2 linked regions of the Homo sapiens genome follow. The protein of the gene in region 1 interacts with the protein of each later gene in a biochemical or structural test. Each region holds a gene or a part of one and is shown in the gene's direction. Other genes may lie near its edges.

Region 1 (3,818 bases):
TGAACAGAATGTAAATTCATACTTTTAAATATTTTGTTCATAATGGCAAAGAGAAGAAAATTGACAGAGGAAGAAGTTTCACAATTATTAGACAAATCAGAAAATGAATACTGAAAGGTAAATTCTACACTGATGACGATGGTAAAGTGGATCATATAAGCAAAATTACCTACTATGAATCTTCAAATAAGATCTCATTATCTGAGTTTTCTCAACTAAAAATTTGATGATTGAACAATGTATTTTTAAGGATCAAGAGAAAATATGAGGCCGGGTGCGGTGGCTCATGTCTGTAATCCCAGCACTTTGGGAGGCCGAGATGGGTGGATCACTTGAGGTCAAGAGTTCCAGATTGGCCTGGCCAACATGGTGAAACCCCGTCTGCACTAAAAATTTGAAAATTAGCCGGTGTGGTTGCACAGGCCTGTAATCCCAGCTACTCGGGAGGCTGAGGCATGAGAATTGCTTGAACCCAGGAGGCGGAGGTTGCAGTGAGCCAAGATCGTCCTACCGCACTCCAGCCTGGGCAACAGAGTGAGACTCTGTCTCAACAACAACAACAACAAACAAACAAAAAAAAAAAAGAAAAGAAATATGGTATTCTACTCAGTCATTTAAGAAGAAGGAATTTCTCACATAATATTTTGTCATGGACAAGTAGTAAAGGATGTGTTCTGCTATTCTTTTATCTCTTATATTTGTGTTCCAAAATAGACTGGATATGGTTTTATAAATAGACAAATGCTGAAAGCAGGGGTGTATAGAGAAGTGATTGGAAGGAAATAGGTATAGGAATGAAAAAAAAAATAATTGGCTTGATCATTCTAAATAATGGTTATAAATCTAAAAATGAAAATATTTTGCAAAATGTAGATCAGAGGATAGCCATCCTTCAACAAATTATGAGCCGTTAAAGGTTTCAAAACTTCAAGCTTTCAGGTATTATATTATGGCAATGTAGATGCCAAAAAAAGAACAAGATACAACCATAAGCTATAACTTTATTAATAGATATCTGACTTATGAAATTTATAAAATGGATGTGTTCCATAAGACGCATGTGTTCCATGTTTATCCATGATGGTTGATGGGCAGTTGTATTCACAGGACATAGCCCATTTCAGCTATATCTTAAAAACAAGGAAAATGTGGAATGACTATCTGGATTTGCTGTACTTAAATACTTAGAAAAAATCTAATAAAGTTGTTTTCCACTATTTCCTGATTCTTCTCAACATTCTTTGTAAAATATGTGTGTGTGTGTGTGTGTGTGTGTGTGTGTGTGTGTAAAGTTTCCATTAGATGCAAATAACAAATGATGGTGACTGCTTTTCCTTGTATACTGAGAATAAAGAACTAGCTCCCTGTAGGAATTTTTCCTCTGAGTTGTGTTTTGTGTTAGGCTCTTGATTTACATGGAGGAGGGATGCTTTGAGAAAGAGTCTTAAAAAAAATTAGCTGCTGCATTTACTGTTAACAGTGTTTTAAAGAACTTGATCTAATTTACATTTGTTTTTTATATTAAGACTAGGTCATATATTTTGCTTGCTCTTCTTTGTATTATGATTTATAATTTATTATTTTTGCATCTATTTGATGATATGCTTTGATAATGATATGTTTTCTGGATTTTAGCATAATTCTAGATTTAAAAGAAATCAAACGGTAGAGTAAGGAGCTCCAGAAAATCCAGTCTTCCATAAAAGCAACAACAACACTGTCAGAAGATCACAGCTCACTGTAGTCTCGATCTCCTAGGCCTAAGCGATCCTCCCACCTCCACCTCCCAAGTAGCTAGGACCACAAGCATGCACCACCTCGCCTGGCTAACTTTTGTAGAGATGGGGTCTCCCCATGTTGCCCAGGCTGGTCTCAAACTTCTGGGCTCAAGCAGTCCTCCTGCCTCAGCCTCTGAAAGTGTTGGGATTACAGGATATGAGCAACTGTGTCTGACCCAGAATCAACTTTTTTGGAACTCTGGTAACTAACCAAAAGCTTGTAGCAATCAGGGGAACATTTAATCAAGAAAATACACTGAATCTCAGTAAGAACAGTGAGCTTTGTGGCATTTGGCTACCCTTGTCCCATCTGCTTCTCAGCTCAGTGATAGCCTTGAAAATAACAGACTCCATTCCTGGTACTGATATAGGGAGCAGGATAGACCTAATTCAGAAAGAATTGTAATTAACTTGTTTTCATCTGTCTGGTGGCTTGCTAGAAGACTGTTTAAAAAAAAAGAGGTCTGCCTTTATGTCACCTAACTTGGAACTCTTCATGGAAAAGTATCTACCTTGGGGGTGTTTGTTAAAAGTATTTACAGACATATGTTTTAGCTACTGTTGCCCGAGGCAAAGGAAAACAGTTGGAGTAAACCAAAACTAACCAGAAAGGTTGGGAATGAGATGCTTTGGGGAATGAGGGCTTTGAAATTCTCTGACATATTCTTGGTAATCTAGAAGGGTACGTGCATTCCCAGAGCTTTGTGCATGCTCAGGAAAGACCCGCGAAGACCCAGAGCTCTCTCTTCTGGCTCACTTTAAGTCTCCGCACAAGCAGGAAGTGAAGACTAAGGTGGAGTTATAAACTGCCTGGCTGAATACTAAAGGCATGTCCCAACACGCAGAGCCCATCTGCAAAGACTGGCAGAATTTTTTGGTTGCAGAGGTTTAAGGAAATTTCTTTCTAATCACTAGCAGACTACTAACTAATGGAACAGAGACTTCACTGGCCACACATAACAAAGAAACAGACTTTACAAAATTAGTTCAGATAAGTCATTAAATGAGGAAACAACTACAATAAACAGCAACAACAAACCCCTAGAAGGTGGAAACATCTGATTTATAGCGTCGTCACATTGTAATATTCAAAATGTCCAGTTTTCTACAAAAAATTATGAAACATACAAAGAAACAAAGTAAGGCTCTTATACAGAGGAAACGAACAGAAACTTCCCCCAGGGAAGCACAGGCAAAGACTTTAAGTAAGCTGTCTTTATTATGCTCAAATTGCTAAAGGAAACCAGAAGAATGATACATCATCAAATAGAGAATATCAATATAGAAATTATAGAAAGGAACTAAACAGAGTTTATAGCTGAAAAGTACAGTAACTGAATGGTTCACTAAAGGGCTTAGATAGCAGAATTGAGTAGACAGAAGAAAGAATCAGTGAAGTCGAAGATAAATTAATTGGAATATCCAGTTTGAAGAGCAGACCCTTAGAGACCTGTGAGACACCCTCAAGTGCACCAACATGCACAGCAGACACAGTGTAATGAGAGTAACATATGGAAAGGCGGGAGGGCTGGAAAGAATATTTGCTCTGGTCTGAATGTTTGTGTCTTTTTATATGATGAGGTCTTTTAAATTTATATGCTGAAATCCTAACCCCCAAGGTATTGGGAGGTAGGGACTTGGATGGTGACTGGGTCATGGGAGTAGAGCCCTCATGAATGGGATTACCACTCTTAGAGTAATAAGAAGATCACTTGCCCTACTACCACGTGAGAACACAGTGAGAAGGCACTGTCTGAACCAGAAAATGGTCCTTCACCAGATACCAAATCTGCCGGTTCCTTGATCTTGGACTTCCCAACCTCCAGAACTGTGAGAAATAAATTTCCGATGTTTATAAGCTACCCAGTTTATGGTGTTTTGTTATAGCAGCCTGAACAGACTAAAACAATATTTAAATAAATAATGCTCAGAAACTTCTCAAATTTGAGGAAAAACATTAACCACATTTAAGAAGCTCAAGAAACTCCAAGTAGGATAAACTACACCAAGACACACGATAATCAAACTGTCAAAAGGTAA
Region 2 (3,818 bases), on another chromosome or scaffold:
AAGGACGCACAGACGTGCCCTATCTCCCCCGCCCCGCCGGTAGAATCTTTTCCTACGAAGATCTTCTAGATTGTACATGGGGACTGGGTTTGGTTTGGTTTGGTTTGGTTTTTTTGAGACAGAGTCTTGCTGTGTCGCCCAGGCTGGAGTGCAGTGGCATGATCTTGGCTCACTTCAACCTCCACTTCCCAGATTCAAGCAATTCTCCTGCCTCAGCCTTCCAAGTAGCTGGGATTACAGGCGCCCACCACCACGCCTGGCTAATTTTTGTATTTTTAGTAGAGACGGGGTTTTGCCATGTTGGCCAGGCTGGTCTTGAACTCCTGACTTCAGGTGATCCACCCACCTCGGCCTCCCAAAATGCTGGGATTTACAGGCATGAGCCACCACACCCAGTCTTAAGCAAGACCTAGCTTTTTTTTTTTTTTTTTTTTTTGAGACAGAGTCTCGCTCTGTTGCCCAGGCTGGAGTGCAGTGGCACCGTCACAGCTCACTGCAACCACCGCCTCCCAGGTTCAAGCCATTCTCCTGCTTCAGGCTCCAGAGTAGCTGGGATTACAGACATGCACCATCATGCCTGGCTAATTTTTATATTTTTAGTAGATACAGGGTTTCACCATGTTGGTCAGGCTGGTCTCGAACTCATGACCTCGTGATCTGCCTGCCTCAGCCTCCCAAAGTGCTGGGATTACAGGTGTGAGCCACCGTACCCAAGGGGGTTATTTTTTAAATAAAATTTTTTATTTTGGAATAATTGTAGATTGACTCAACAGAAAAGTTGCAAAGATAATACGGAGAATTTCTGTATGCCCCTCACTTGGTTTTTTCCATTAACATTTTACATTACTTTGCCACATTTGTCACAACCAAGGCAACATCAGTATGTTACCATTGACCAAATGCCATTCTTGATTCTGACCACACTTGATGCTGATTTTGGTAGTTGTTACTTAATGCCCTTTCTGCTCCTTCCGGATGCCTTCAGGATGCCACGTTATATTTAGGCATCATGGCTCCGCAGCCTCCTCTGGCCTGTGACTGGTTTTAGACTTTCCTTGTCCTTCATGACCTTGACAGTTTGGAAAAATGCTGGTTGGGTATTTTATGGAATGTGCTTCCATTTGGTTTTGTCTCAGACTGGGATTGCGGGATATTGAGAGGATGGCCAGGTAGGATGCTATTTTTTTTTTTTTTTGGCTTTTTTTAGTAGAGATGGGGGGGAGGGTCTTACTATGTTGCCCAGGCTGGTCTTGAATTCCTGATTCCTGGGCTCAAACGATCCTCCTGCCTCACCCTCCCAAAGTGTTAGGATTACAAGCCTGAGCCACTGTGCCCGGCCTGGGTTTTTTGTTTTGTTTTGTTTTTTAATTTTTTTGGTTTTTTGAGACGGAGTTTCACTCTTGTTGCCCAGGCTGGAGTGCAATGGTGCCATCTCGGCTCACCGCAACCTCTGCCTCCTGGGTTCAAGAGATTCTCCTGCCTCAGCCTCCCGAGTAGCTAGGATTACAGGCATGTGTCACCACACATGGCTAATTTTGTATTTTTAGTAGAGACGGGGTTTCTCCATGTTGGTCAGGCTGGTCTCGAACTCCCGAACTCAGGCGATCCACCCGCCTCAGCCTCCCAAAGTGCTGGTATTACAGGCGTGAACCACCGCGCCTGGCCCGGTGTGGGTAATTTTTAATAGCTTGGTCAGTAGGAGAATTGCATTGCTGGCTATGTGCGGTTTATGCTGGCTGCAGAGGTGTCTGGGCAGGGACTCTGCTTCCCCTCCCCACCGTTTTGCCGCCTTTTCTCTCTAGCTATTGGGTCCCACCCACTTCAGCCCAGCCAGACTTAGCAGCTGGACTCAGGGTGAGTGGGTGCCAGTTGGCACCCTTAGCTCTCCAGCCCCTCCCAGCCTGTTCTAGTTCATAGCCGGTCATCAGTGGTTGCCTGCGACCCTTCTCCCCAGATCTTCGAACCCTGAGTCCCCTCGTGTGCACATTCCTGACCCAGGCCTGTGGCCCCTTCAGGACTCATGTCCTGGCCTCCCCCAGCCTCGAGCTCCCCTTCAACTCCTGAGCTGGGGCTTGAAGCAAGGGTGGGGCTACTGGGGACTCTTTTTCGGTGCGGAGGGGCCTGGCTTGGGGAGTGAGGCGGTGGTTGCAGGCAGGTTGCATCAGCCCTGGCTGTTTGACGGGGACGGGGAGTTCGGGGATTCTCTGGGGACCCCAGCACACCTGGCAACCGCTCCCGGTTAGCAGAGCCTTGGATAAGGGAGAACCCCCGCACAGCAAGAGTAGGGGTGGTGTGGAGAGGGAGGGAGATCAGCCACCCGTGCAGGACCCTGAGAATCTGAGGCTCGGTGCCAAGAAGGGGCCTCAGATCACAGAGGCTTGTTAGCAGGAGTCAAGACTGAGGTCCCGAGAGGTAAGGGGGGTTGTGAAAATCACAGTGCCAGTTAGATGGGACCTCAGCCTCCACCATGCTGCACAGCTTCCAGGGCCCCGAGGCCCATGGTGTAGTCTCTGGGAGGTCTCCAAGCCCTGACCCTCACCTCAGGCCTGCTGCTGCTCACAGTTGCCAGACGCTATCGATTCCTGCCTGCACCTGCACCGTGCCATCGCCCTGCTATTGCCGCAACTCCTCACTGCTTTCCCAATCACGGTGGCCTCCTGGCATGATGGAAAAGGCTCCGAGTTTTGCATCAGACAGACCGGGGTTCTGGTCCTGAGCCCAGCACTCAGTTGTAGACTGGAGTGCAGGCAGGGCCCTCATCTGCCGAGCCTCGGCTGCCTTCCGCAGCGTGGGTCAGAGCATGGGCCCTAGAGCCAGCCTGCTGGGTTCACACCCCAACTCCACCACTTCTGTGACCCTCAGCAAGTGGCATCCTCTTTCTATGACTCAGTTTCCCCTCCGTAAAATGGGGATGAGATGGTCCATTGCAGACGGTGGTTTTGAGGATTAAATGTGTAAATGTGCGTGAAATACCTAGAGTGGGGCCTGGCATAGGGAAATGCCCTGTGAGCAGTAGTTCCTGCTCTGGGGCCTGGTGTGGGAGCGCTGTGGAGATGGCATCAGTGAAGCCGGCGGCTGCCAGAGCCCGGGTCTGTGTGTGATTCTCTCTGTTCTCGCCACGCCTGCTTCTGCTTTCAGATCCGCCGTGTGCAGATGTCTGCCTACGTGACTGCTCCCCCGAACGCTTCGAGGGCAAAGTCAGGGCCCTCCTCATTCCCAGAAACGTTCCCCACAACCCCCCGCCCTGTGCTGCTATTTCCGTAGGCATCAATACATTTTCTAATGAGTTGCTCAGCACAGAGGCCAGCGAATGTGATACTGAGGTCCCTGAGAGGAGCCAGGGAGGGTAACTGGGTCACGCAGGCCAGGGGTGCCGGGGTTGAAGGTGGGAGTCCTGGCAAACAAGGGCAGGTAGGCCAAGGCCAGCTCAGTTGGGGAGAGGATGACGCGGGGGCTGGGAGACAGCACAGGCTGCCACGTGGCCCACAGTCCTCCAGAGCCCCTTCCCTCCCTTGTGCCTGCCCTTGTCCCTTCAGTAGAAGCAGTCACAGCTCTTATGCAAAAAAAAAGGGACACAGCAAACTGATAACAACTGACACCAGTGTCCTAGAGCCCAGGATGCCATCACTCACCGCTTAGTGGTCTGGGACAAGATACTGTACCCCCCGACCTGTGGTCACCTCATCAGTAAAATGGGCACAATCATAGAACTACCTTGGGGCAGTGTGGAGGGGCAGGGGGTTGACATGGGAAGAGGCCTGGACCGGTGAACTGCTGACCACCTTGGGCCCTGTGTCAGGCCCAGAGGGAGGGGTGGC

Evidence for each region.
Region 2: the proteins of HIKESHI (region 1) and NUP62 form a complex in vitro, tested with the Homo sapiens proteins (one study listed by IntAct).

The regions. Positions count from the first base shown.
Region 1 is NC_000011.10:86,332,986-86,336,803, forward strand, and holds part of HIKESHI (protein Hikeshi), read left to right. Parts: intron 1-2,978; exon of another isoform or gene 2,979-3,818. UniProt on the Homo sapiens protein: Acts as a specific nuclear import carrier for HSP70 proteins following heat-shock stress: acts by mediating the nucleoporin-dependent translocation of ATP-bound HSP70 proteins into the nucleus.
Region 2 is NC_000019.10:49,922,827-49,926,644, reverse strand, and holds part of NUP62 (nuclear pore glycoprotein p62), read left to right. Parts: intron 1-3,818. UniProt on the Homo sapiens protein: Essential component of the nuclear pore complex. The N-terminal is probably involved in nucleocytoplasmic transport.